Regions from separate parts of the Homo sapiens genome. Here regions 2 and 3 are each linked to region 1. Evidence: fine-mapped expression QTL. A gene starts in region 1. Each other region holds a variant in brackets. All regions are shown on one strand. Distances are between the middles of the regions.

What was found. PIP is the estimated chance that this variant, and not a neighbour inherited with it, causes the effect.
Region 2: its variant is fine-mapped to the expression of LINC00926 in putamen (GTEx, PIP 0.96).
Region 3: its variant is fine-mapped to the expression of LINC00926 in monocytes after R848 (Quach 2016, PIP 0.95).

What each region holds. Positions count from the first base shown.
Region 1 is chr15:57,295,343-57,304,755 of GRCh38, reverse strand. It overlaps LINC00926 (long intergenic non-protein coding RNA 926), which reads right to left and starts at 4,391. Exons shown (of 3, transcript NR_024433.1): 1 at 3,832-4,391. RefSeq lists enhancers at 5,730-5,849, 6,332-6,381.
Region 2 is chr15:57,346,390-57,357,216 of GRCh38, reverse strand. No RefSeq gene overlaps it. Among named protein-coding and RNA genes, the nearest start is that of CGNL1, 25 kb to the left of the region's middle. RefSeq lists an enhancer at 1,005-1,726. The variant G/A (reference allele first, on the strand shown) is at 5,204.
Region 3 is chr15:57,262,760-57,270,759 of GRCh38, reverse strand. TCF12 (transcription factor 12) reads right to left here. Exons shown (of 21, transcript NM_207037.2): 18 at 7,486-7,648. Among named protein-coding and RNA genes, the nearest start is that of SNORD13D, 12 kb to the left of the region's middle. The variant ATAAATAAATAAT/T (reference allele first, on the strand shown) is at 4,662.

The DNA of each region.
Region 1 (9,413 bases):
GAGATCAAGGTTAACATCAGCAGCGATAAGTCCCATTGGTACCATGTACCTCTCGAATAATGTGATGAGAAGGACATTTCACCTCTGTGTGGCACCCAGAAGCATAACCCCAGTCTCATGGCAAAACACCAGACACACCCAAATTGAGGGACATTCTACAGAATCCCTCCCTGTACTCTAATGTCAGAAGTCAGGCTGGGCGTGGTGGCCTGCGCCTGTAATCCTAGCACTTTGGGAGGCCGAGGCAGGCAGATCACCTGAAGTCAGGAGTTTGAGACCAGCCTGGCTAACATGGTGAAACCCCATCTCTACTAAAAATACAAATTAGCCAGGCGTGGTGGTGTGCGCCTGTAATCCCAGCTGCTTGGGAGGCTGAGGCAGGAGAATCATTTGAACCCGGGAGGTGGAGATTGTAGTGAGCCAGGATGGGGCCACTGCACTCCAGCCTAGGCAACAGAGTGAGACTCAGTCTCACACAATAAATAAATAAATAAATGTCAAAAGTCATGAGAAAATGAGGAAAGATTGAGAAATGATCACAGACTGGACACATCCAAAAATGCAACCTGGTATCCTGCATTGGATCCCGGAAATTGGAAAGGACGAGAGTGTAAAGAACGGTGAAATCTAAAAAAAGTCTGTAGGTTAGTTAACAGTAACATACCAATGTAAATTTCTTAGTTTTAATGAGTGAATCATACTCACCTTCAGAGGGGAACTTGCCTCCTCTAGACCCCAGTGTTGGCAGGAAGGGCACAGAGCTCCCTGGGACAGCACCCCTTTTTCCAGGGAATCAACCAGCCATGGTTTTTGCTGAGCACCCCTACAGTCTCTCTGGGCAAGGTGTAGTGATACATACTAGGCAGGAGATGGGAAGAATTTGGCGTCGAAAGATTCTCCCATCTCATCTACAGCCTTTTTCGTCACTATTGAAAATGATTTTAAACTTCGAAAAATAAATCTAATTTATTTAGTTAGTATAAATAATCTAATGTATTTAGTTAGTCCAAATAATGAAATCCTTATTCAATGATTGAGGAAACTTTATGGCCCCAATCCACATCCACCTCTACCAACTAAAAAGTGTGGTTTCTGCTTCTCAGTAGCAATGAGGTCTAAGCCAGCATTTCATCCGAGCTTAGGTTCCTAACCTGCGTTTGGCGTGGGAAGAATTCAGTGGCAGGTTAGAATGCCAGGAGACGGGAGAGCCACAGGCAGGGGTAGAGAGGGGACAGTCAGGACTGGGACACCGCAGCAAGTTCCCTGAGAAGGGAATGAACCTTCCTCCTCATTGCTCCAGAAAGGAACATGGAGGAGCCTGGAAAGGTGGGACTTCTGGCTCCGGGGTAAGCGGGATCAGATATTAGACAATCTTACTTTGATTGGATTATTTTCCCATTCCTAAACCAATCGCTGCAGCTGTGGGGATGAGGCACTGCATAGCTTAGATGTGGAGGGTGTATTCTGGGGCCAAGGAGCAGGATCAGAACACACAAACCATGAAGACAGAGGTGGGTCCTGGAGGGATTGCTGCCAGAAGTTGGGTGGATAGATACGGGGCAGGCACAAAGCAACCACAGGAGACAAACTGCCAAGATGAACCTGTCTCGTTGGGTCCAAATACCTGCTCTTCCTGGATCCATGCATGCACCAACGCTAGGACAATCAGAGGGACAATTCGTTGTGCAATGTAAACAGACAAAGAGTCTTTTCGCATAGTGACACCCAGAGGATGTGCTTACAGGAGGCTCAGCTTGGTTGTGTACAGGGTCTCATTGTCTTTCAGATGCTCCCTCTGCAGGATCTGAGGGCCCCTTCCCTGTGCCCATCCAGAATAATTGGCAAATCCCTGGTCTGGCAAGAAAAGGTAGGACTCAGCAGAGGAAAAGGAGTTGGAGAAAAGAGGGTGCCATGAAGGAGGGGTGGGGGATGAGGCAGCCATCCATGGAAGCAGCCCTGCAAGCTACGTGCCAAGGACACCAGGCATTGTGGAACAGGGTATAGGGCCGACTCAACACACTCACCACCGCCCTGCCCCAGGCAACCTGTATGGGCCGAAAGAGATGACTTAAACTAGGAGTAAAGTACCAAACTGTACATTCTTTTTACAGCCAGCCCTCTGTATTCATGGATCATAATATTCAGATAAAAAAATGAATGATAGCATTTGTACTGAAGTTGTACAGCCTTTTTTTCTTGTCATTATTCCCTAAGCAATACAGCGTAGCAACTACTTACATAGCATTTACATTGCATTAGGTATTATAAGTAATCTAGTGATGATTTAAAGTATATGGGAAGATGTGTGTAGGTTATGTGCAAATACCATACCATTTTATATCAAGGACTTGAGCATCCATGGGTTTTGGTGTTCACAGGGCTGGGGGTGGCAGTGTCTGGGATCAATCTGCCATGAATAGCAAGGGACAGCTGTACTCCGTGTGTGCTTGGCTGGCTAACACAGGAATATAATTTAGCAAAGAACTCTCTTCTCCACCAGAGAAGACTCACACCCATGAAGAATGAAGATTGAAGATTTGAAGATTTTTCTTGTAGTATAGTAACTTTGTGTTAACCTATTTCCCATCTCCCATTACACTGTGATTTCCTTGGGGTAGCCTGTTATCAGCCAATGCCATGTGGGGCAGAAGAACTGCCCATCTGAGCCCTGCCTGAATTCCTGAACCATAAAATCATATTAAAAATGATTTGTAATTGAATAATTGATTGAATGAGGGAATGGACATTAAACTGAGGATTACCTGGAAAATCTGATTTATTATCTGATTTCTACCAATGGGACCCAGGGTCAATGGCTGGAGGAAGCTTTTAACATCCTACCAATTCAAAGGGACTCCTGTCTTGGTGAGAGCCTCCAAATGGGTTGATTGAGAATTCAGTGCAACTTAGCAAGTATAAGAATCCACGTACAGTGGAGGGGTCCCTGCTCTAAAACTCCCACCACATTGGGCCCGCAGTCCCCCAGACCAATATTTGTGATTGCAAAACCACTGCTCCTATTATTAGCATGACTGGCTCTGTCACCACAGTCAGGTCCTCCCTGACTTGGGCCCTCTCTGGGTTAACTTCTCCCTCCTTAGGTCCCAGCATCCTGTGTCCTCACCCTGGAGAGCATATGCTACAATACCTTAAAATTTCTCACCACCTTCTTGGCCTCTACTGCTGGTCTGAGTGGTGGCCATCTTCAGATCTCCTTTGGCACCCAGTACCCCACATGTTTTAGGGATGAGGGAGAAGAAGCAGGGGGTGCCAGAGCTCAGCTTCAGCTCTTCCTGGCAGGGAACTGGAGCTCGAGACTGAAATGTATTTTGTTACTTTATTTATTCAGAGATGGAGTCTCGCTCTCTCACCCAGGCTGGAGTGCAATGGCGCAATCTTGGCTCACTGCAACCTCTGCCTCTGAGGCTCAAGCGATTCTCCTCCCTCACCCTCCTGAGTAGGTGGGATTACAGGGGCCTGCCACCATGCCCAGCTACAATTTTTTTTTTTGTTTTATTTTCTAGGGGAGATGGGGTTTCACCACGTTGGCCAGGCTGGTTTCAAACTCGTGACCTCAAGTAATCCGCCTGCCTTAGCCGCCCAAAGTGCTGGGATTGCAGGCATGAGCAGCCGAGTCTGGCCTATTTTGTTACTTTAACTTATTATGAAAGTTTCCTAATGCACATGAAAGTAGGTGAGAATCAAAATTAAACTTTCATGTATCTTCGTCTAGTTTCACTAATTATCAACATTCTGACATTCTCACTTTGTCTACCATGTACTTTTGGCTAGAATATTTAAAAAATAAATGACCAGTATCATATGACTTACCCGTAAACACTTCAAAATATGAGCTTGAGATGTAGAATCACTGATTTTGGGGTTAAATGAACCTCAAAAGTCCTCCTGTGTTCAAATGGGCCTGGGCTTGGAAGCTCTGCAGTGGGTGCCCGGCTCTTGGAGACCCCGGCCACAGCGGGAGGGGGATACAACGTGGATGCTGGAATCAGCTCTCTGCCTGGATCCTGGGAAAACGCCCCCTGGAGTGATTGGCTTAGTTCTTCTTGGGCCCATCACAGTTCATCCAAGTAATCCACTTGCTTCCTGTTCTCCAACTCCTCTGTCACGTGCAGCCATTTCATCTTCACACCACACCCTTGTGATTTAGGGAGTATCATCTCCATCACGCCTGTAATCCCAGCACTTTGGAAGGCCAAGGAGGGCAGATCACGAGGTCAGGAGTTTGAGACCAGCCTGACCAACATGGTGAAACCTCGTCCCTACTAAAAATACAAAAATTAGCTGGGAGTGGTGGCGGGCGCCTGTAATCCCAGCTACTCAGGAGGCTGAGGCAGGAGAATTGCTTGAACCCAGGAGGCGGAGGTTGCAATGAGCCGAGATCACGCCACTGCACTCCAGCCTGGGTGACAGAGCGAGACTCTGTCTCAAAAAAAAAAAAAAAAATTTCCCCCACCCCTTATTATTTGCATATTACAAGCAAACCAGTTTATGCTCGGAGAGGCTAAGTGACTTGCCCAGGGTTACCCAGGTAGTGGAGGGAGAAGCAGAATTCCCACCCAGCTCTGCTGAACTCCGATGCCCTAGCTTGCCTGGTGGCACCCACAACCGGCCCTCAGTGTCCACTTCTGAGTTTAGCCTGGGCAAGAGACTGGTCCATAAACGACTTCCTGCCCAGTGGTAAACAGTGGAAGGCAGGCTCCTGTGTTTCTCGTGGTTGGTGGTAATCGCTGCTTTTGCAAAGTGGCTTTTGGGGAGGAGAGGTTTTAGGAAGTGTGTTAAATGAGGGGGGAAGTGTTACTTGGGGGTTTCCCAGCACTCAACACGCACACTGCAGGGGCTGCCCTCCCCCGCAGCACACTGGGAGAGCCTGTCCTCCAGCGCTGCCCACGCCCGGCCGTGGGTCTCATTCCCCACTGGATCTCCTGTCTTTGATGTCAAATATACCCAATTCATCTCTTTCATATCACTACAAAGGAGCCTCCTAATTACTCTGTTTAGACAGCCTCTTCTCCAAATATTAAACATTTGGTCTTCCCAGGCCCCCCAAGCATTTAATATCATCAAGGTTGTTGCGAAATCCACTTTTCCCCCAACTGGTGGGCAGATTCCTTTCTCTCTCCATTCCCAGCCTCCCTGGGCAGATCTGGACAAGTCACCCCACATATTCTTTTCCCAAGCAGGCTGCCCTTGGGACACAGCCCTTTTCTTCTGGTGAGAGGGTCGGAGCAGTGGGGTGGACCTTGAGCGTTTTCTTGAATCTCAGCCCTGTTGGGAAGCCCTGGAGAAGCCTTGGGGAGACCCAAGGACTCAGGGGTGACCTGTCATGCCTGACGCAGGTATGTGGGGCATCTCCACCTTTGGTGGTGGCAGGCCCAGCACCAAGTCCAGAACGTTTGCTGGCTGGTGGGGAAACAGAGACTTCCTGGTTCCAGATCAGAAACTGCCTTGAGTAGCTGCATCTCTCCAGACACCAGATGCTCGGTACCTGAGGCTCCCATAGCCTCTCCTCCTTCAAAAGAAAGAAAGAAAAAAAAAAGCACTCTAATCCTGGAACCCGTCCCCATCCCGAACCTCCACGGCCTTGCCACCGCTTCCTTAGGTAGAGAAGTCGGCTCACATTTCTTCCTACTCAACAGCTGCTAGTGTTCGCCCTTCTAATGCCTCCCTCCTGGTCCCATGGGCCTTTGCCAGCTGATGTCATGGCACAGTGCTATGTCATAGGTCTGTGCTATGCTCCCTGTTCTGCTCTCTCTTCATGGTGTGGCTGGTCCCCAGAAGGACTCTGTGGCTTGGGACTGCTCCCCAGACATCCCTCCTGTCTCCTCATGGGCCTTGTTGCTCTGGCTGAGCAGAAAACAGCCTCCCCATTCCCCCGGCCCCACACCAACGCGGGGGTCAAGGAAGGTTTCCAAAGGGACATTTGAGCAGAATCTTTTCCTTCTCTCCTTCCCTTTCTCCTTTCCCTGCCTTCCCATCTCCCTTCCTTCTTTCTTTCAACTTTTTATTACGAAAAACTTCATTTTCAAAAGTAAAGTGTATAATGAACCCCCATTTACCTATCTCACCCAGCATCAATGCTGATAGACCGGGCCAATCTTGTTTCCTCAAAACCCCCTAACCCCACTACCCACCCTCCAACAATGGATGGTATTGAAGCGGATTCCAGACAGCGATTGTATCATTCTCTCTGTAAACACTTCAGTGTGTATCTCTAACAGACAAGGACTTTTAGAGAAACATAACCACAGTATCACATCTAAAAATATAAACAGTAGTCCAGTCAGTGTTCGAATTGTTTCATAACTGCACTTTTTAAAGTGGCTTGTTTGGATCAGGATGCTGAGCAGACAGACTTGAAGGGATTGAAGGGTGACACATTTTGGTGTGGGTGTGGGCTGGTGGTGGTGATGGGGAAGCACATTCTCACAATTCTTGGACACTTGATTGGCCTACTGCAGACAGCAGGGATTCCCTTTTTTTTTTTTTTTTTAGACGGAGTCTTGCTCTGTTGCCCAGGCTGGAGTGCAGCGGCATGATCTCAGCTCACTGCAACCTCCGCCTCCTGGGTTCAAGCGATTCTCCTGCCTCAGCCTCCTGAGTAGCTGGGATTACAGGCAGGCACCACCATGCCTGGCTAATTTTTGTATTTTTAGTAGAGACAGGGTTTCATCATGTTGATCAGGCTGGTCTCGAACTCCTGACCTTGTGATCCGCCTGCCTTGGGCTCCCGAAGTGCTGGGATTACAGGCGTGAGCCACTGGCCAGGACTCCCAATTTTTATTAACCTCTACTGAACTCATTTTCACAAATCATTGCTCAGTTGTTTCCCTGGCCAATTGAGACTCAGGGGTATGTCACTTCCTCCAGGCAGCCTTCCCTGCATCCTGGCCCCCAGTCAGCCCGGGCAGGTGTTCTTGTTCTATAACTGAGTTCACTGTCTTTCCCAGGTGACACTGTTTGTAGCTCCCTATAATAAGTCTTCCTCAGGGGCAGCATGTGCGAGACACAGTCGGGTCTATTAGACATGTGCTACTGAATAAAGAGGAGGTCAGCCCTCATCCATTTCTGATTTGCTGCCCTGTGGGTTTGCTTTCTTTAGGTGGGTTAGGAAGTGCCTCCTATGTGCCATGCATCTCTGAATTCTTCAGTTAATTCTCACAACCGTCATGTAAGCTGATACGATCATTAATTATCCCCATTTCACTGAAGAGAAACCGAAGCTCAGCATGGGTAAGTTGATTGGCCAAACCTCACAGTTGCCACATTGAAGGTCCCTCCTATCTCCTATTGCCCTACCCACCACCAGGGAAGAGCCATTTGAGCTGCTGGTCCTGGCTGGAACATTCTAGAAAATGCCCACAACAGAACATGATGGCTCCTGCCTCTCAGCTGCAGGAAGTGGTTCCTTTCACTATTTCTGCTCAAGTCTCAGGGCCACTACACCCTCCCCATCCAACCTTTCTTCCCCAGCCTATTGGAGCTGAACTCTCCCCTGCTTGCATCCTCAGCCTCTGGTGGCTAAGCAAGCCTAGAGCAGGTACTTCAAAGCCTCCTGCTTAATTGTGCCTTCCCTGCCCATCATTAGGCAGAGAGTAAAGCAAACAAATTAAATGCACATTTTCTTCTGAAACCCTTGCAGGATGGCACTGGCACCGTCCTCGGTGTTGTTTGTGCTGACGGGCTGGCTGCCCAGCTTTGGAATGGGCAGGAAGCACTCTGGTGCTGGGACATGCTTACCTGTTTCTTCCTCCTCCACCCCTGGACAGAAGGTCGGTGGTTCCTGGAGAAGAATAGTTCCTTTGTGTTTTCTTTCCTTTCTTCCTGTGCCTAATTAGGAATTATGCTTGGGAATCAAGCTAATTAATCTCTGCCAGTTCAGGGTGAGATCAAGCTGCTCGCACTATCAGTGTTGATCAATAACTCACTGCTGAAAGAATTTGAAAAACAACCCCGCTCCTTTCAGCACAGGCTTTAATGAGGAAGAGGTGGGATGGCCCCAGGGGGAGACCTGGAGCAGGTAGGCAGAGGATCGTCTGGTGAAGCTACTACCCATTGCCTTCTGCATGTGAGAGGGCCCCCCGCAGGCAGGGCTTTCTAACGCCCAGGCCCAAGCCAGGGGTGGGAGCTTCATTATTGTGCTGCCTTGTTGTGTAACCCAACTTGTCTTGAACTGCTGAGGTTGGTCACTGGGAATACTCATAAGATGGTGGAAAACATGGCCAATGGCTGGGTTGTATTTCAGGACAAGGTGACCCCTCTGGCTTACTGATCAGAGGCCAGCCAGAAGCCTGCTCCCAACACTAGGCTGCCACCTCAGCCCAGCGACGACCAAATATCCAGGAGAAAAGATGCAATCTTGCAGGAAATAGAGCTGCAGAAGGCCCGGAGAATGAGAGAAAGCAAAAAAGCCCATAGGGCTGCAAGGGACAGGGGAAGGAAGGACCTCACCCTGGGAGTAGGAAAAAGGTGGTCTGGTTAGAGTTTGTACAAAATTTGTGCTGTGTCTTGGGGTCCTCATGGCCTAGGCAGGTATCTTAGTGTGTATTCTGATGCTATGACAGAATACCTGAGACTGAGTAATTAAAAAAGAATAACAGAAATTTATTTCTTATAATTCTAGAGGCTGGAAAGTGCAAGACGGAGGGGCTGGCATCTGTTGAGGGCCCTTGTGCTACATCATCCGTGGTGGAAGGCGGCAGGGCAAAACAGCCTGGGAGGAGAGCCCTCATGACCTCTTATTAGGCAACCCCCCTCAACACTGTTGCATGGGGGATTACGTTTCCAACATATTCGAACTGTGGCAGAAGGTTAGATCTTCAGAGATATAGAGATGGCCCTTGCCTTTAGAGGGAAAGATGCAGTTGTTTTTCTTCCAAGGAGACTATCAAGAAGCCAGAGAACCAAAAACAGTGATAACTGAAAAAGAACTCTAGGACTGAAGGAACTTAGGATGGTTTTTAAAATTTTGGAAGTCCCAGCCTATGTTGTATCAAATAGATTTAAAAGTTTTTTTTTTGTTGTTGTTTTTTATTTTTTGAGACTGAGTCTCACTCTGTAGGCCAGGCTGGAGTGCAGTCTTGCTCTGTGGACCAGGTTCACTGCAACCTCTGCCTCTGGAGTCCAGGTGATTCTCATGTCTCAGCCTCCCAAGTAGCTGGCATTACAGGTGCACGCTGCTATACCCAGCTAATTTTTGTATTTTTTATTAGAGACAGGGTTTCACCAGGTTGGCCACGCTGGTCTCGAACTCCTGACCTCAAGTGATTCTTCTGCCTCAGCCTCCCAAAATGCTGGGGTGCTCGGCCTAAACGTTTTTTTAATTGACAAAAAATGTTGTATGTATTTATTGTGTACAACGTAGTGTTTTGAAATACGTATACATTGTGAATGGC
Region 2 (10,827 bases), 52 kb before region 1:
AAGAGGGGTTGGTCTTGCTACCTCGAGGGTGGCAGAAGTGAAAGACAATCCTTGGATAAGTGCACCCTTGAAGTTTAAGCTTGTGTTGTTGAAGGGTCAGCTGTACCTATTTTTTCAGCTTTAGTATACACAGAAAGTAGTTGCAGAATTCCTAACCTCCACCCCCCGCCCATGAGAAGTGTATTAACCATACAGTATTTGTGTATCAAGTCAAAACCCTATTTTCCCTGGGTACTCAGGTTGGTTCTTTTCTTCCCTACCCCCTTCAGTGTGGTTATGTTATTCATCTGTATTATGGTTGGGTTCTTTTGTTTTTTTTTATTTCTAAGAGACAGGGACTCACTCTGTCATTGAGGCTGGAATGTATGGAATGTAGTGGCATGATCTCAGCTCATTGCAGCCTCAATCTCCTAGGCTTAAGTGATCCTCTCGCCTCAGTCCCTGAGTAGCTAGGACTGCAGGCATGCGCCACCATGCCTGGCTAATTTTGTATTTTTTGTAGAGACGGGATTTTGCTATGTTCCCCAGGCTGGTCTCAAACTCCTGGGCTCAGGCAATCTGCCCACCTCGGCCTCCCAAAGTGCTAGGATTACCTGTGTGAGCCACCATGCCCAGCCTGGTTGGGTTTATTTGTAATTGGGTTCCATTTGGGGCTCCCAAACATCTTAATTTTTTAAAATTTACATTCAGTAAAATTCACTCTCTGTAGTTTGCAGTTCTATGAGTTTTGACAATGTAGAGTCATGTATCTACACCACAGTCATGCAACAGAACAGCTGCATCAGCCCCCAAAATCCCTCATACAGCTTAATCAACCCCCCCACACCTCCTATTTTTGGCAACCACTGATCTGGTTTTTGTCCTTATAGTTTTGCCTTTTCCAGAATGTCATATAAGTGGATTTGAGTATGTAGACTTTGGGGTCTGGCTTCTCTCACTTAGCAGAATACATCCATTGTACTCTACAGGTCACAATCCACTGTTATTATTTCTCTTATTGCTCAGATTCCCTAGGTTTGGCTGTTTTGAGCCCTTTCAAGCTGGCTCCTGTGATCTTCTGACATGTTCTCACCATTTTTCTAGCATTTCCTTACTTCCAGGCACCATAAGCTGGTTCAGGATCATCTTACACTTTCCCTTTCCCAGCCCTGGAGTCCTCACCCCATTTTTCCAAGGAGTGGTGGAGACCTTGAGAATCCCCCTCCAGTGGGCGAAACAGCCCACTCCAGAGAAGGCATGGAGAGAAACTCACTTATCCACTGGAGAGTACAAGAGAGGAGAGAGAGGAAATAGCTCGTCTCATCAGAAGATGGCCAGGTATAGGGATTAAATGCAGATGGGTGGTTAATATGTAATTCAAGCTGATGGTGGCGCATATCAGTGCTGACACCATTAAGCATCTATAGCTTCTGTGATTCCCAGCAAGATTTCCAAACAGCATTGGGCATAAAAGGCTAGTCAAGGTTTCCAAATACCATGCCAAGCCTAGGATGCCCCCTTCCATCTTGATATGTAGTCTCATTGCCTTTATACCAACTGTCCCCCCACCTCCCTGCCATTAATAGCCACAAGAGTGAAGCTACATTCATGGACTGAACCCCCACCAAGTCGGTCAATTACCTCAGTTGAGAACCCTCTTGATTTCTCCCTAAAAATTGTGTTTAAAACTTGTTTTTAAAATATTTTTTGACACCCCTTTGCTAAAGCAGTTTGTGTCAGGGGCAGCTGTGACAGTCACCTGGGGTTGCTACGGGAACGGTGTCCATGGATTGCAAGCGACACCTGGCTAGCGGTGGGCAGCTGGCGAGCTACATGGAAGGAGGGCTGTTTTTCCTTTGAAAGTAGAACATTTCTTCCTTCAGGTTGTGAACAGTTAGCCACGGGGCGTGGGATTTTACTTAGGAAAGAGAGGCTGCTGTGGGACTGGGCACCCACTTGCCATGGCAGCTGGGAAGGGAGAGGAGTCAGCAAAAACTGGCTGGGACTAACGCTCCGAGGACGCACTGGCTCAAGCTGCCCTTTACCAGCTGAGGCCAATGACTGTGGGTGAGGCAGGGAAACCAAGGGGAGCCCGGGGGTGAAGGATTGCAGTGGGGGTCAGGGAAACTGCAGGTACCACACTGGGTGCCTCGGTTCCTGTTAGAGCTCCCTCCCTGCCCAGGGCCAACACCAGAGACCAGATCCCTGACCTGAACTACAGTCCCACTGCTGTACCCAGATGCCCTTGCAGTCATTCATAGTCACTTTGGGTGAGTTGCATTTGTCAGTCGGACTGATCCCCATGTATTCCTGCATTCCAGGCATAATGCAGAAGCCACTGCTCCCAAGAGCCTGCCCCACTGGTTTGCATGAGACTCACGTGCCTGGGTCATTATAATAAGCCCCACTAAGATGGGACTCAGGTCAATGAGGACAGAGCATCTTCTAGTATAACAAGTAAGGGTTTATTGATGTTGGCCTTTAGATACTAAAAAATAATTGTTTTTGTAAATAGCAAAGGCAAAGGCAAGAGTAGCCAGTGTTAGCTAAGGCAGTGGAGTGGTTCTCAACCCGCGCTGCACATCAGCGTCACCTGGGGAACTGTTTCAGCCCAGTGATTCTGTGGCTCTAGAGTGCAGCCTGGCTTGGATTTTTAAATACTCCCCTCGAGTGATTCTTAGTGGGTGGCCAAAATAGAGAACTCCTGCTCTAAAGTAGAATAACCTCTAAGCTAAAGAAAATTTGGACCCCATGAGTATAACAGATACTATCATACCTTGGAGATAGCATGCCATAATGTGGTTCAGTTCATTATTAGACGAAAGTTTCCTCGAAGCTGAATCTGCATTTACACACATTATATCACCCTCTGGAAACAGAAGTAAGAGTCAGGAAAGCAGATTTCCCCATAAGTACTTCTTATACTTCCAGTGTAGCTCACCCGTTAGATAGAAACACAAGGCTTCATTTTCTCTTTGCATTGATTTGATGATTGTCCCTGGTCATTGAATAGGGGACCTTAGGGGCCACACACTGCTATGAGGAAAAGCAGCATTCACAGTCAAAGCTCTGGTGAGACCAGCATTACAGGCCCTGGGGATGTCCCAGCGTCTGACCCTGAGCAAAACTGTGTAGCAGTTTTGCTCCCACACTTCATGGCTGAGAATAAGGAGGAGAGGTTTCCTACGGTTGGAGGTTCTGGGCAGCAACGTCTACCATGACCTCCGCAGTGAACCTGTAGGCAGGGAGCCCCAGAGACAGGGTGAGAGCAGAGTCAGTGAGGGCCTGGGGTGCTAATTAATGACCTTAGCATTGGAGAATGATGGTATTAGACTAAGAATGAGACCAGTCAGAGAGAGGAGAGTCAGGAGATCTGGCGGTGGCTCCAGTGGTAACACATCTGAGAGTCACTTCAAAAGTCACCCACCCTTGAGGTCATCAACTGCCTTAAGAGACATGGGAACATAGTCACTGAAAGTGAAGGGACCCACCTATGGTCACACAGCCAGATAGGGGCCTGGAGAGAGCAGATGTCTGCGGCTTCATCTCAGTCAGTCCTGTTCATTCTGAAAATGCTTCCGAGCACCGGGCATAGAGCCAGCTTGTGCTCCACACTGGGGACGTAGTGGAGAACCCCGTCTTCAAGGGTTCAGCTCACACACCCTGCACTGCTTTCCCATGCCTGCTGTAACCAATTACCACAAAGCTACTGGCTTAAAACAGCACACATTTATTATCTTACAGCTCCGTAGTCCAGGAGTCCAACACGAGGCTCACTGGGGCCAAAATCAAAGTGTCAGCAGGGGTGCATTCCTTTCTGGAAGCTCCTGGGAGAGCCAATTTCCTTCCCTCCTGAGGCCCCCACACTCCTACCACACGGCCCCCTTCCTCCATCTTAAAGGCCAGCAACGCTGGGCGGGTCCTTCTCACAAAGCAACACTCTGCGCTCCTCTGCTGCCTCCTCTTCCACTATTAAGGACCTTGATGATGATATTGGCCCCACCTGGATAATCCAGGCTCATTTCCCTGTATTAAAGTCAGCTGATTAGCAACCTTCATTCCATCTGTTAATTCAATCCCCTTGGCCGTGTAACAACACACTTACAGGTTGCAGGGATGGGGGCCTAGACATCCTTGGGGACCATTATTGTGCCTACCACACTTCCTGTGAGACTTCATGACCACCGGGTTGTGGTGGGAGAAAGGCTGGGAATCCAAAAGCTCAGCAGAGCTGAACTAGGTGTCGCAAGAAGAAAACTCCCCCCAGGCGATCATCCCAGGATGGAACCTTTCTGCAGTAAACACAGCAGCTGGAGAAAGGCGGTCTAGACATCAAGGATTTGTGTGCGCCAGCCTCACCTGATCACGCACAGACTGTGTTTGCCGGAAAGTGGAAATGTTATGCGCGGTCTGGGAGACCAAGTTCTCTCCCAGGGCCAGAGGCATAGTGTCTGGAATGAGCCAGAAGTTTAAAAGCTAACCTGTTATGAAATCAGCCAAGAGCAGAAAGCGCAAAGCTTCCTGGTCCTGCCCCGACCCCACGCCCGCTTGCATAACTCTAGGCAAGCAACTGAGAGCGTTTAGAGACCCCAGAGGACCTCCCAGTTCCAGCCAGCAGGAGGACGGTCACAGAAACTCAAACCCAAGAGGATGTATTTGGACTGGAAATAGTCTCCCAACTGGTCACCCTATCTTTAGCTTCCTCTTCACCTCCCTGCTGCCCCAGCAATCTTTCCAACAGGCCAAGCAGAGCACACTCATCCAGCTGAAGCCCTGCGGTGACTTCGTGGACCCTTCACAATAAAATCCTCTCTCCACAGAGAGTCGGGCAAGGCCCCTTGCAACCTTGGCCTTGCCCTTTGTGTCCACAGCTCGGTTTCATGAAAACACAACCATCTTTACATCCTCCAGGCCTCTAGAATGAACTCCCCTTCCTTCTCTTTCTGGAAAACTCTAAGTCACTATTCAAGACCACATACCACTTCCCCAGGATTCCCACTAGAGCTATGTGGTCGCTTTGCTCTCTGTTCCCAGCCGGGATTCTCCTGCTGTGCTGAGCACCTGGAGGGCAGGAGAACTGTTGTTTCATATATGTCCCAGGGACCTACTGAGCCTGGCTCAGTGGACGCTGTAGAAACATTTGTCACATTAAGAAGGATTATAAGAGGTTGGCACGCTCTGCTTTTCCAGTTCTCTTGGAATTAGGAATTTGGAAATGGAATCC[G/A]AATCAGTTTTACTAATGTCTGAAATCGGACTAAGTCCGCCCCTAAAAGAAAAACTACGTTGGCAGGTCTGATAGATGGATGGCATTCATGGCCACAACTAGTGACCTTCTGTATCCACACCCTTGGCAATGTGAGTTTGCAATGCCTCATTAAAAGGTAGAGCATATTTTCTCCCCCCGCTTGTATCTTGGCTGGCCTGCTTTGGCCAACAGAATATAGCGGAACTGGCAATGTGTCCTTTAAGTCCAGGCCTCATGAGGCCTTTACTGCTTCTGCTCTTCTCGTAGGACCCCTGTCTCCACTGAGAGAACAAGCCTGGACTAACCTGCCAGAGGAAGAGAACAGGCACGGGTCAGTCTGTGGAGCAGAGCCAACTCTTCCTACCTGAGGCCATGCTAGACAGGCCAGCCCCCAACCCAACTGCCAGGGACCACTGAACAAGCCCACCTGGATTCAGCCAGCCTGGGCCCAAATCACCAAAACCACCCAGCCACCATGTAGACATGTGCCATAATAAATGGTTGTTGCTTTCAGCTACTAGATTGGGACGAGTTTCGTTACACAGCGTAATAGATAACAGATTAGGACAGCTGATGGCTGAGAAGCAAATGAGAAATGAGTGCTTGACTATTCTACGAGTGGAAAGGAGGGAGTTTATTGTTTTCGTTATTAAAGTTTTATTCTAAGGAAAATGTCCCTTCCTCCTTTGATCTATATACACTATCGATGCTTTTATTTTCTTTCTTTTCTTTCTTTTTTTTTTATTGAGACAGAGTTTCACTCTTGTCTCCCAGGCTGGAGTGCAGTGGCACGATCTCAGCTCACTATAACATCCGCCTCCCGGGTTCAAGTGATTCTCTCGCCTCAGTCTCCCAAGTAGCTGGAATTACAGGCACTTGCCACCATACCCGGCTAATTTTTGTATTTTTAGTAGAGATGGGATTTCTCCATGTTGGCCAGGCTGGTCTTGAACTCCTGACATCAGGTGATCCATCTGCCTTGGCCTCCCAAAGTGCTGTGATTACAGGTACGAGCCACCGCACCCGGCCTATGATTGCTTTTCATTTGCTTCTTCCTGGAGTTCACTTGGGATCGAGAAGCAGCAATGGACTCCAACATAGTCTTTTCCTGAGTGGAAATAATTAATTCAGTGCTTCCTGAAATAAGGAAGCCATTGGAGACCTGTTTTTTGAACCTACCTAATGAGTCTTGTATCTGTGTTCTGGATGCTGGCTTAGAAAGAGGCTGGGCACGGTGGCTCACGCCTGTAATCCCAGCACTTTGGGAGGCCAAGGTGGGTGGATCATGAGGTCAAGATATTGAGACCATCCTGGCCAACATGGTGAAACCCTGTATCTACTAAAATACAAAAAATTGGCTGGGTGTGGTGGCTGGTTCCTGTAGTCCCAGCTACTCAGGAGGCTGAGGCAGGAGAATTGCTTGAACCCGGAAGGTGGAGGTTGCAGTGAGCCAAGATCGTGCCACTGCACTCCATCCTGGTGATAGAGCGAGACTCCGTCTAAAAAAAAAAAAAAAAAAACAAAGAAAGAAGTTATGGGCCTGGTGGAAAAGATCAGTTGAAGAAGGGTTTATATGGGACATCAAAAATAAGAACAAAGATAAGACCCAACCTGATTCTGAAATTTTGACAGAGGTGGAGGTGAGATGTCAGGCTAGGGAGGCAAGGCCCTGGAATCTGAAGTGTGGTGTGGTGATGGTCATCTTACAGGATCCTGAAGACCTGAGGACCTTATGATCAAGTCAGCACATCCAGAACACATTTACGTCTGTCCCAGCTGGTTTGGGCTTGCTCTAACATTTCCGCATAACTCACTGGGCCTGATTCAAGGATAATTTGTAAAGTTCAGAATTTTTCTTAGCAAAGTTGAGTAAGAAGGACAGAGGGGTTGTTACTGTCACTGAAATGTATCCACCACTCCAAGCCCAGCTCAAATCCCACTGCTTCCCTAGCCACCTAACTGGAAGATGCTCCCTTCCTCCTCTGAATTCCACAAGCAACTCCTGAGGATTGCAGGGCACATATCTTGACTGGCTTGACATGTAACTTAATGTTATCCAACTGCTAGCCTTTGCAAGGGCCCTACCTACTTCAGGTGCAAATGCGCAGCCTTTAAACTGGGCAAATAAACTTTTGATGGGGATCTTGGGAACCCAACCACCACTTATAATGTTGCTTCCGTGAGAAATGTGTTCTCTGTTCTCAGAGAAAGGCTGGGAAATGACCTTTGGTTGGGGCACCAGGCATCTCCAAGATTTGTCAGCTTTGAGCATGGGAGAAGCACATCCCCCTGGAGGACTTTTTAATTTTACTTAAGAAACACATTCACATATATTTCGCATGATTTATGTGTCACTCCAGTTCAGTTTAAACTCCTTTAATTATATTCTTCTCCAACCTCTGATCCAGAGGTAACCTCTCCCTTCCCTAACCCGCAGCATGCTCTCAGTCAAGAAGGCTTTTTCGGCCAGGCGCAGTGGCTCACCCTTGTAATCCCAGCACTTTGGGAGGCCGAGGCGGGCAGATCACAAGGTCAGGAGATCGAGACCATCCTGGCCAACATGGTGAAACCCTATCTCTACTAAAAATACAAAAATTAGCTGGGCGTGGTGGTGTGCACCTGTAGTCCCAGCTACTAGGGAGGCTGAGGCAGAAGAATTGCTTGAATCCAGCAGGCAGAGGTTATAGTGAGCCAAGATCGCGCCACTGCACTCCAGCCTGCCAATAGAGCGAGACTCTGTCTCAAAAAAAAAAAAAAAAAAAAAAAAAAGAAGGCTTTTTTTCCCTGACCTTTCTCAAACACCTCAGCTGTTTGCTTCTTGTGTTGCTCTGCTGTCGGAAGGACCATAGTTTGGAATCACTGTTCCACAAAGTTTGGTGACCATATGTGATCATCCATTCTTCGTGTCTTGAGCCACAGGAGACAAATTTGTGCCTCCAGAAACAGTTGTGAGGTCAGGCCCAAGAGGGCACAGCCATGGAGAGCACTCCCTCATGGGAGGGGCCAACAGGATGGCTGGGGAGGGTGCCGTGAGGCAGATGGCAGATTAGCAATGCAGGCCTGTGGGGCAATAGCTGATGGACATTAGGCCTGACACCCCATCTCAGACTACTACTTTGCCCATGATTTCTCTCTTCCAATTCTTCTCTTCTTGTTTATTTTCCAATAAGAAGTAAATATGGAGCTATGGAAAATTTCAAACATATACAAAAGTAGATAGAACATACAAAAAATCCATATACCTGTGACCCAGCTTCAATTGTCTACTTACAGCAAATGTCATTTTTTTCTATTTCTCCACCCATTTCCCTTCATCATGATTATTTGGAAATCAATTCCAAGCATCAGATCATTTTTTTCTTTATTTCAGTAATTCTAAAAGATAAGGACTGTGGTTTTTTTAAAGAAAACACAATAAAAATAAATTAACAATAATGTTTCAGTATTATCAAATATCCAGCTAGTGTTCAAATCTCCAAATTTGTCAAAAGCCAAAATTATTTTTTTAACGGATTATTGGACTCCAGATCAAAGAAGGTCCACATACAGCAATTGGTTGGTGTATCTCTGAAGTCTCTTTGAATCCATAGGTTTTCCCCTTGGTTTTTTTGGTTTTCTTTTACTTTGGAATCTGTTAAAGTAACTGGGTGGTTTGTAGAATGGAATTCCCTGCAGTTTGGACTGCATCCCCATGGTGTCATTTAGCCCATTGCTGTGCCTCTGTCCTTCCTGTACATTTGTACTGGAGCTAGGGGCCTGACTACAGTCAGGTTCACTTTTTAGGCCAGTCTCCCTAGGTGGGTCTGTTCCTCAACAAGAGTCACAGCATGTTCCCGTGTCTCTGTTTACCATGTTAGTGGTGGTTGCTGCTTACTGCCTAGATCCTTAACTCATAGGAGCTGCCCTTGGTTTTTTGTGTTTAAAGGTAAAATGTAATGCATACACTATAAAATTCACCATTGTAAAGTATACAGTTCAGTGGTTTTCAAAGTATATTCACAAGGTTGTACAACCATCATTACCATCTAACTCCAGAACATTTTCATCACCCTCAAAAGAAACTCTGTTGGCATCATGCCTTAACCTCCCCTCTTCCCAGGCCCTGGCAACCACTAATCTACTTTCTGTCTCTATAGATTTTCCTATTCTGAAATTTTCATATAAAAGGAATCATTTGTGGTCTTTCGTGGCTGGCTCCTTTCATTTAGTATAGTGTCTTCAAGATTCACTGATGTGGTAGCATGAATCAGTACCTCATCTGTTTTTATTGCCAAATAATAGTCAATTGTGTGGATTGACCACAGTTGGTTTATCCATCCATCAGCAATGGTCATTTGGGTTGTTTCTGCTTCTGGCTACTGTGAATAACACTGCTATGAACTTTTGTGTACAAGTGCTTGTGTGGATGTGTGTCATCATTTCTCTCGGGCACAGCCCCTGGCGTGGAACTTCTGGTTCATATGGCAGCTCTATGCTTAATGTTTTGAGGAAGTGTCAGGCTGCATTCCACAGCGGCTGCCCCATTTTCTATTCCTACCAGCACTGTAAGTGGGTCCCGATTTCTCCACATCTGTGCCAACACTTGTTATTGTTGTCATTTTGATTACAGTCCTCCTGGTGGTACCCATGGTTTTTGAATCATTGCCTACCCAAGCTCAAGCTGCGCACGCACAAGAGTATAGCTCAAATACACAGTATTTTCAAGGCAGGTAGCTCTGGCCTCCACCTGCTACTAGAGAGGGAAAACTTACACACACACTGTCACCTCTCACACACACTTTCACACTCACACACACACACACACAAACACACTCATACAAGCACGGTCCCTACCCTGTTGGTGCTGCAGGGAATCAAAGCTGAGTAAGGCACAATCCCTGCCCTTGAGGAGCTCGAGGTCAGTCCAGGAGACATGGCCTGGAGTTTCCGCTGGCAGGAACAGAGGCCTCTCCAGCAGCTCAGGTACAAGGGAAGGTTTGCTGTGAAGTCGCCCAGGGGGTCTCACAAGTGAGGACCTGATGGAAACCAGGCCGTCCTCAGGAGCAGGGTCTCTCTCTACCTTGTTTGTCCCCCTCACTCTCTTTCCTCTGCTGCCTAGCTTCCTCAGTTTTCCCCCAGCCCCTGCCCCCCACCCCAGATTCTGACTGACAAGTGACTGTGACTTGGCCTGGCCCTTGCCCCCCAGCACCAGCCGCCCTCAGCCAATGGTGCAGCCTCCATGTCTCAATTCCAGATTCTGCAGTAAGCACGGGTTTCCGCACCAGGCCCCAAAAGACCTTTGAGGGGTTCTGCTTGATCGGGGTCCCTTGGTTCGGTTAGCTGTGGCCAGGGAGAAGAGTAGGAGCCTGTAGAAGGAGGGAGAACCAGCCGGACGTGGTGGCTCACGCCTGTAATCCTAGCACTTTGGAAGGCTGAGGCGGGCGGATTGCCTGAGCTCAGGAGTTCAAAACGAGCCTGGGCAACACAGAGAAACCCCAACTCTACCAAAAAATACAAAAAAATTAGCCGGATGTGGCGGCAGGCGCCTGTAGTCCCAGCTACTCAGGAGGCTGAGGCAGGAGAATTGCTTGAACCCGAGAGGCAGAGGTTGCAGTGAGCTGAGA
Region 3 (8,000 bases), 33 kb after region 1:
GGACATCCACACCAAAATCCCATTCGTAGGTCACCAACATCAAAGACCAAAGGTAGATAAAACCACAAAGCTGGGGAGAAACCAGAGCAGAAAGGCTGAAAATACCAAAAGCCAGAACGCCTCTTCTCCTCCAAAGGAACACAACTCCTCATCAACAAGGGAACAAAACTGGATGGAGAATGAGTTTGATGAGTTGACAGAAGTAGGCTTCAGGAGGTCGGTAATAAGAAAGCTGTTCTCCAAGCTAAAGAAGCATGTTCTAACCCACTGCGAGGAAGTAAAAAACCTTGGAAAAAGGTTAGACGAATGGCTAAATAGAATATCCAGCATAGAGAAGACCTTAAATGACCTGATGGAGCTGAAAACCACAATACGACAACTTCGTGAAGCATACACAAGCTTCAATAGCTGATGCGATCAAGCAGAGGAAAGGATATCAGTGATTGAAGATCAAATTAATGAAATAATGCGAGAAGACAAGCTTAGAGAAAAAAGAGTGAAAACAAATGAACAAAGCCTCCAAGAAATATGGGACTACATTAAAAGACCAAATCTACATTTGATTGGTGTACCTGAAAGTGATGGGGAGAATGGAACCAAGTTAGAAAACACTCTTCAGGATATTATCCAGGAGAACTTCCCCAACCTAGCAAGGCAGGTCAACATTCAAATTCAGGAAATACAGAGAACACCACAAAGATACTCCTCAAGATGAGCAACTCCAAGACACATAACTGTCAGATTCACCAAGGTTGAAATGAAGGAAAAAATGTTAAGGGCTGCCAGAAATAAAGGTTGGATTACCCACAAAGGGGAGCCCATCAGACTAACAGTGGATCTCTCTGCAGAAACCCTACAAGCCAGAAGAGAGTCGGGGCCAATATTTCAACATTCTTAAAGAAAAGAATTTTCAACCCAGAATTTCATATCCAGCCAAACTAAGTTTCATAAATGAAGGAGAAATAAAATCCTTTACAGACAAGCAAATGCTGAGAGATTTCGTCACCACTAGGCCTGCCTTACAAGAGCTCATGAAGGAAGCGCTAAACATGGTAAGCAACAACCGGTACCAGCCACTGCAAAAACATGCCAAATTGTAAAGACCATCGATGCTATGAAGAAACTGCATCAATTAATGGGTGAAATAACCAGTAGCATCATAATGACAGGATCAATTTCACACATAACAATATTAACCTTAAATGTAAATGAGCTAAGTGCCCCAATTAAAAGACAGAGACTGACAAATTGGATAAAGAGTGAAGACCCATCAGTGTGCTGTATTCAGGAGACCCACTTCATGCGCAAAGATACACATAGGCTCAAAATAAAGGGATGGAGGAAGATCTACCAAACAAATGGAAAGCCAAAAAAAAAAAAAAAAAAAAAAAAAAAAAAAGCAGGGGTTGTGCGGTTGCAATCCTGGTCTCTGATAAAACAGACTTTCAACCAACAAAGATCAAAAGAGACAAAGAAGGCCATTACATAATGGTAAAGGGATCAATGCAACAAGAAGACCTAACTATCCCAAATATATACACACCCAATACACGAGCACCCAGATTCATAAAGCAAGTTCTTACAGACCTACAAAAAGACTTAGACTCCCATACAATAATAATGGGAGACTTTAACACCCCACTGTCAATATTAGACAGATCAACGAGACAGAAAATTAACAAGGATATCCAGGACTTGAACTCAGCTCTGGACCAAGCGGACTTAACAGTCATCTACAGAACTCTCCACCCCAAATCAACAGAATATACACTCTTCTCAGCACCACACTGCACTTATTATTCTAAAATTGACCACATAATTGGAAGCAAAACACTCCTCAGCAAATGTAAAATAACACAAATCACAACAAAACGTCTCTCAGACCACAGTGAAATCAAATTAGAACTTCTCAGGAAAAAAAAAAAAGAAGTAAACAGTGGTTAATTCTGAATAGTGGTGTTTCTTGTGATTTTTGTGCATACTTTTCTGTATTTTCTACATTTCTGTAATGAAAATAGACTACATAATCAGAAAAAAAAACATATGAGGGAGATGCTCTGTAACAGCTTATAGAAAGTTCTATTTATGATTCAGATATAAATTACTGACCACAGCTTCTCAGAACCTTGAAATAATGTACAAAAATATTAGACATTTTTACCTCTTCTTTAATACCCTGAGTATTCTAATAAAAGAACAAGTACACAGGCCAGGCATGGTGGCTCGTGCTTGTAACCTAAGTGGTTTGGGAAGCTGAGGCGGGCATGGGAGAATTGCCTGAGTCCAGCAGCTTGAGGTTATTGTCCACTGCACTCCAGCCTGGGTGACAAACAGAGACTCTGTCCCTAAAAAGTATGCAATATTTAACCTGCTAATCATTAAGAATCATATAAATGCATTCTTTTGACAAAAGAAAATCACTGGTTCTTTGACTTCAAAAAGTCCTTTAAAGATCATCGAGCCCAGTGGTGTCCACAGATAGCCACTCATTAGAATCTCCAAGAGCACTTGAAAAATACAGCTTTCCAGGTCTCACTACCAGAGATGCTAGACTCACTAATTTAGTGAGTTTGGGTTGGGGCCCAGGCACCTGTATTTCTAAAATGTTCCAGGGTCTGGGCAGCAGGGTTGAGAACCACTTCAAGACCTAGGATCACAGAGCTAACTGGTGGCAGTATGATGATGAGATGTCAGCTCAGTGCTCCATGGAAGCAAGCCTACACCATACACTTAAAATTACCACCATAACACTACCACTGTAACAGTAGATATAGTATCTTTATTGAGTGCTTACTGTGTGCTAGACCGTGTGCAAAGGGTTTTACATGCATCATTTTCAGGTTATTCCTACAAGAATCCTGTAACAGAAAGTCTCCTTTTAGAGAAGAAGAAACTGAGCTCAAAGACTTGCCCAAAGTCACTCGGCAAGTATGTAATGGAACCACAATTCAAACCCTTATTTTGTCCAAAGGTCATGTTATTAACCTATTCATTATTATGGACTATTACTAACCTATTACACTGCCTCCTAATTTCTGATGACCTATAATATGGGTCAGCAAACTGATCTATGAGCTGGTCATCCTTTTTTGTAAGTAAAATTTTATTGGAACAGCGATACCCATTTGACTTTGGCTACTTTTGTCCTCTAATGGCAGTGGTAAGTAGCTGTGACAGAGACTGTATGTCCAGTAAAGCCTAATAATAGTCACTATTTGGGACTTTACAGAGAAAGTTTGCTGATTCCTGATCTATAAGAAGATGAATATGGAGGAAAGATGTAAATTGTTTCCCTTAAAATTCTATTTGAATAAAAACTATGTAAGAGTTAAGATGCCTCCAAAGAGTGGTCTCTGAATTCCTTGACACAGTTTTTTCCTTCCTTATGCCCCTGATAGTTGAGTACAATACATATTAAAGTAATAATATTAAGATCTTAAGATTTCCTTTTTCCCAAGATAAATGTTTAGGTGTTGAAAACAGTGAGAATGTCAAAAGAGCAAAAGGACACCTTTTAAGTTGTGAATGACAGAAAGGAACATTCTGCTTCTTTTAGTTTTATCTACCATCCTCATTGCACCATAATTCAACACAAAGAACAATGTTTTAAATCTGTATAAGATATATACACATATCATTGATAAATGAATATGTATGCCAAGAAATAGGGTGTACCACAAATATACTAAATGATCTAACTTTTAAATTTTCATTAGAAAAAAGTCTTTTTTTAGAGACAGCATCTCTCTGTTAGCCAGGCTAGAATGCAGTGGCATGATCATGGCTCACTATAGCCTCAAACTTCTGAACTCAAGCAATCTTCCTGCCTTACCCTCCCAAGTAGCTGGGACTACGGGTGTTTGCCACCATGCCCCGCTAATTTTTTGTAGAGACAGAATCTAGCTATGTAGCCCAGGCTGGTCTTGAACTTCTGGCCTCAAGAGATCCTCCTGCCTTAGCCACCCAAAGTGCTGGGATTACAGGCATGAGCCACTGTGCCTGGCCTAACTCATCTAATTTTAATGTAGAACTGGAAGAAAAATTTGAAGGAAAAATCCAGAAATCACTTGAAACTAATGTACTATGTGTCTATATTCATACTTCAAAGCAAAGTCAAGTCCATTTTCTAGAAAACTCCACGACAACATCATTCTGCCTAGAATATTTCCTTTTTCATACTTTTCTCAAATTACTATTTAATTGTTTGTTAAAAAGAAACATTTTTTCTGAAGGACCAGATGGTAAATATTTTCAGCTCTGATGGGCCATATAGTCTCTGTGGCAACTATTCTAGTCTGGCAATGCAGTATGAAAACAACCACAGACAATGGATAAATGAATGTGGCATGGTGATGTTCTAATAAAACATAAAAATAGGCAGCAGCCAGGCGCAGTGGCTCACGCCTGTAATCCCAGCACTTTGGGAGGATGAGGTGAGCAGATCACTTGAGGCCAGGAGTTTAAAACCAGCCTGGAAAACATGGTGAAACCTTGTCTCTATTAAAAATACAAAAATTAGCCAGGCATGGTGGCATCTGCCTGTAATCCCAGCTACTTGGGAGGCTGAGGCTGCAGTGAGCCAAGATCACCCCATGGCATTCCAGCCTGGGTGACAGCGAGACCCTGTCTTTAAATAAATAAATAAATAAATAAATAAATAA[ATAAATAAATAAT/T]AAAAACAAAAACAAAAATAGGCAGTGAGCTGGGTAGGCCCATGGGCCATAATTTGCTTGTTTAAATCAGAGTCTTACCATATATTTAGCCCTTATATTAATATACAGTTATGAGCCCATAACATTTCAGTCAATGAGGGACTACATACATGACAGTGGTCTTATTATACTGGAGCTAAAAAATGTCTATTATATAGTAATGTAGCTGTGGTAAGGCTGCAGCACAACACATTAGTCACGTTAACTCTTTGTTTGTTATAAACAAACCTACTGTGCTGCCAGTTGTATAAAAGCATGCAATTAAGTACAGTACACACTACAGTAAGTCCTCAATGTCATTGATCAGTTCTTGGAAACTGCAACTTTAAGGAAAATGACACATAATAAAACCAGTTTTATCATAGGTTAATTGATATAAATAAGAGTTAAGTCCCTACAGTACATTTCTGGTGACAAAATATCATCAAACTTCTAAATAAAAACCAAAATACACTTCTAATATTAAACAATGAAATAAATGTGAACTATGCATACATTTAAGAAAGACTCATAAAAATAAGTAAGATTATTATTTACCCAATTATTCCAGTTCAGGGTCGGGGGAGGCTGCAGCCTATCCCAGCAGCTCAGGGAGCAAGGTAGAAACAATCCTGGACGGGATGCCATTTCATTGCAGGGCACACTCACACATACACCCACACTCTCTCATACTGGGACAATTCAGACACATTACTCAACCTAATACGCACATTTTTGGGGTGAAGGAAGAAACCGGAGTACTTAGAGAAAACCCACATGAGGAGACATGGGAAGAATGTGCAAACTCCACAAACAAAGAGGCTCTAGCTAGGAATCAATTTTTTTTCTCATCATTTCACAAAATGATGTTCTTTGAGGACCTGCTGTACTTGATAATAATAATAACTAATTATGTTATTGGTTTATGTATTTATACTATACTATACTATACTATACTATACTATACTATACTATACTATACTATACTATACTATACTATTTATCATTAGAGTATACTTCTAACTTAAAAAAAAAAGTTGGCCGGGTGTGGTGGCTCACGCTTGTAATCCCAGCACTTTGGAAGGCCGAGGTGGGCAGATCACTGGAGGTCAGGAGTTCGAGACCAGCCTGGCCAACATGGCGAAATCCCATCTCTACTAACAATACAAAAATTCGCCGGGCATGGTGGCAGGCACCTGTAGTCCCAGCTACTCTGGAGGCTGAGGCAAGAGAACTGCTTGAACCCGGGAGGCAGAGGTTGCAATGAGCCAAGATTGTGCCACTGCACCCCAGCCTGGGCGACAAGACCTCAAGGCAGGTCCTTTAGGAGGTATTCCAGAAGAAGGCTTTGTTACCTTAGGAGAGACAGCTTCCTGCATGTTACTGCCTGTGAAGACATTCAGTGGGACAAGATGTGGAGGTGGAAGACAGTGATATTAATGATCTTGACCTTGTGTAGGCCTAGGCTAACATGTGTGTTTGTGTCTTAGTTTTTAACAAAAAAGTTTGAAAAGTAAACAAACAAACAAAAAACCACAAAATTTTAAAAATAGGAAAAAGCTTACAAAGGCCGGGTGCGGTGGCTCATGCCTGTAATCCCAGCATTTTGGGAGGATGAGGTGGGCAGATCACTTGAGGTCAGGAGTTCCAGACCTGCCTGGCCAACATGGTGAAACCCCGTCTCCACTAAAACTACAAAAATTAGCCTGGAGTGGTGGGGGGTGCCTGTAATCCCAGCTACTTGGGAGGCTGAGGCAGGAGAATCACTTGAACCTGGGAGGCGGAGGTTGCAGTGAGCCGAGATGATGCCACTGCATTCCAGCCTGGGCGAGAGAGTAAGACTCCACCTCAAAAAAAAAAAAAAAAAAAAAAAGCTTACAAAAGAACTTAAAGAAAATATATTTTTGTATAGCTATATAATGTGTTTGTGTTTTAAGCTATTATTACAAGAGTCAGAAAGTTAAAAATAATTTAAGTTTATAAAGTAAATGACATACAGTAAGCTAAGGTTAATTTACTATTGAAGAAAAATATTTTTTAATAAATGAAATATAGCCTAAATGTACAGTGTCTGTAAAGTCTACAATAGTGTACAGAAATGTCCTAGGCCTTCACATTCACTCACCACCTGCTCATTGAATCACCCAGAGCAATTTCGAGTCCTGCAAGCTCTATTCATGATAAGTGGCCTATACGGGTACCATTTTTTATCTTTTATTTTTACTGTGCCTTTTAGGTGTTTAGATACACAAATTCTTACCATTGTGTTACAATTGCCTACAGCACTCAGTTCAGTAACATGGTATACAGGTATACAGCCTAGGAACAACAGGCTAGGTTTGTGAAAGTATACTGTATGTTTGCACAATGATGAAATTGCCTAGCAATGCATTTCTTAGAATATATACCATTGTTAAGTGACACCTGACCATATTCAAATATTTATTGATCAAATCTATCTAAATGTCCGTACCACATGATTTAACTTCTTTTAGCTATTTTACCTTCTACTTATCTAACAGACTAAGCAACTTGAGTGAAGAGATATAATTATATTTTATATATAGTCCCTCAAATGGTATAGTATGAAGGAAAACATAATTTTGAAATCAAACCTTCATATACTTCTCTTTTATAGAGATGATGTGGTGATTAAATGAGACAACATACACAAAAATCCTAACACAATATCTAGAACATAGCTGACAGTTAATAAATGCATGACACCCAGCTTCTCAAGTATGTTTACCTATGGAAAATGAATAAAATTTAAAACCTGGATGCTAACAAATACCTTGTTCTGCCTCTAGATGAAACCTTGATATCTTTTTGGGAGGATTCATCATCTGACTTCATGTCATCTGATGAAGGAGGTTCATGAAGGTTTTCATCCTTTTCTTTGTTTTCAGTCTTGATTTCTGTTGTAACAACAGTTCCAGACTGACTTTGCAAGCCACCTAACAAAGAGGCAAAGGAAAGATAAAATAAAAGACGAGACTCATATATGAATTACAGCTAAGACAATAAAAAGCTTTCTAGCTGGTGAATATCCTTAGCAGTTACAGGGTTATGATGGAGGTTTGAAGATGTAGGAAAGTATACTATTTAGAGCTGAAAAGAATATATCCACATCCTTGTGCTTTTTAACAGCATTTGTATTTAGAAGAACAAGTCTGACCCCCATGACCAATTTAATGCTCACTTTCAGGCACTATTTAACAAATGAACAAGGATGAGAAACTATGTATTTTAGAAACTAACTTCTAAGATGTTGCAGAGGTAAAGGACATAAGCTTAACATCTTCCTGG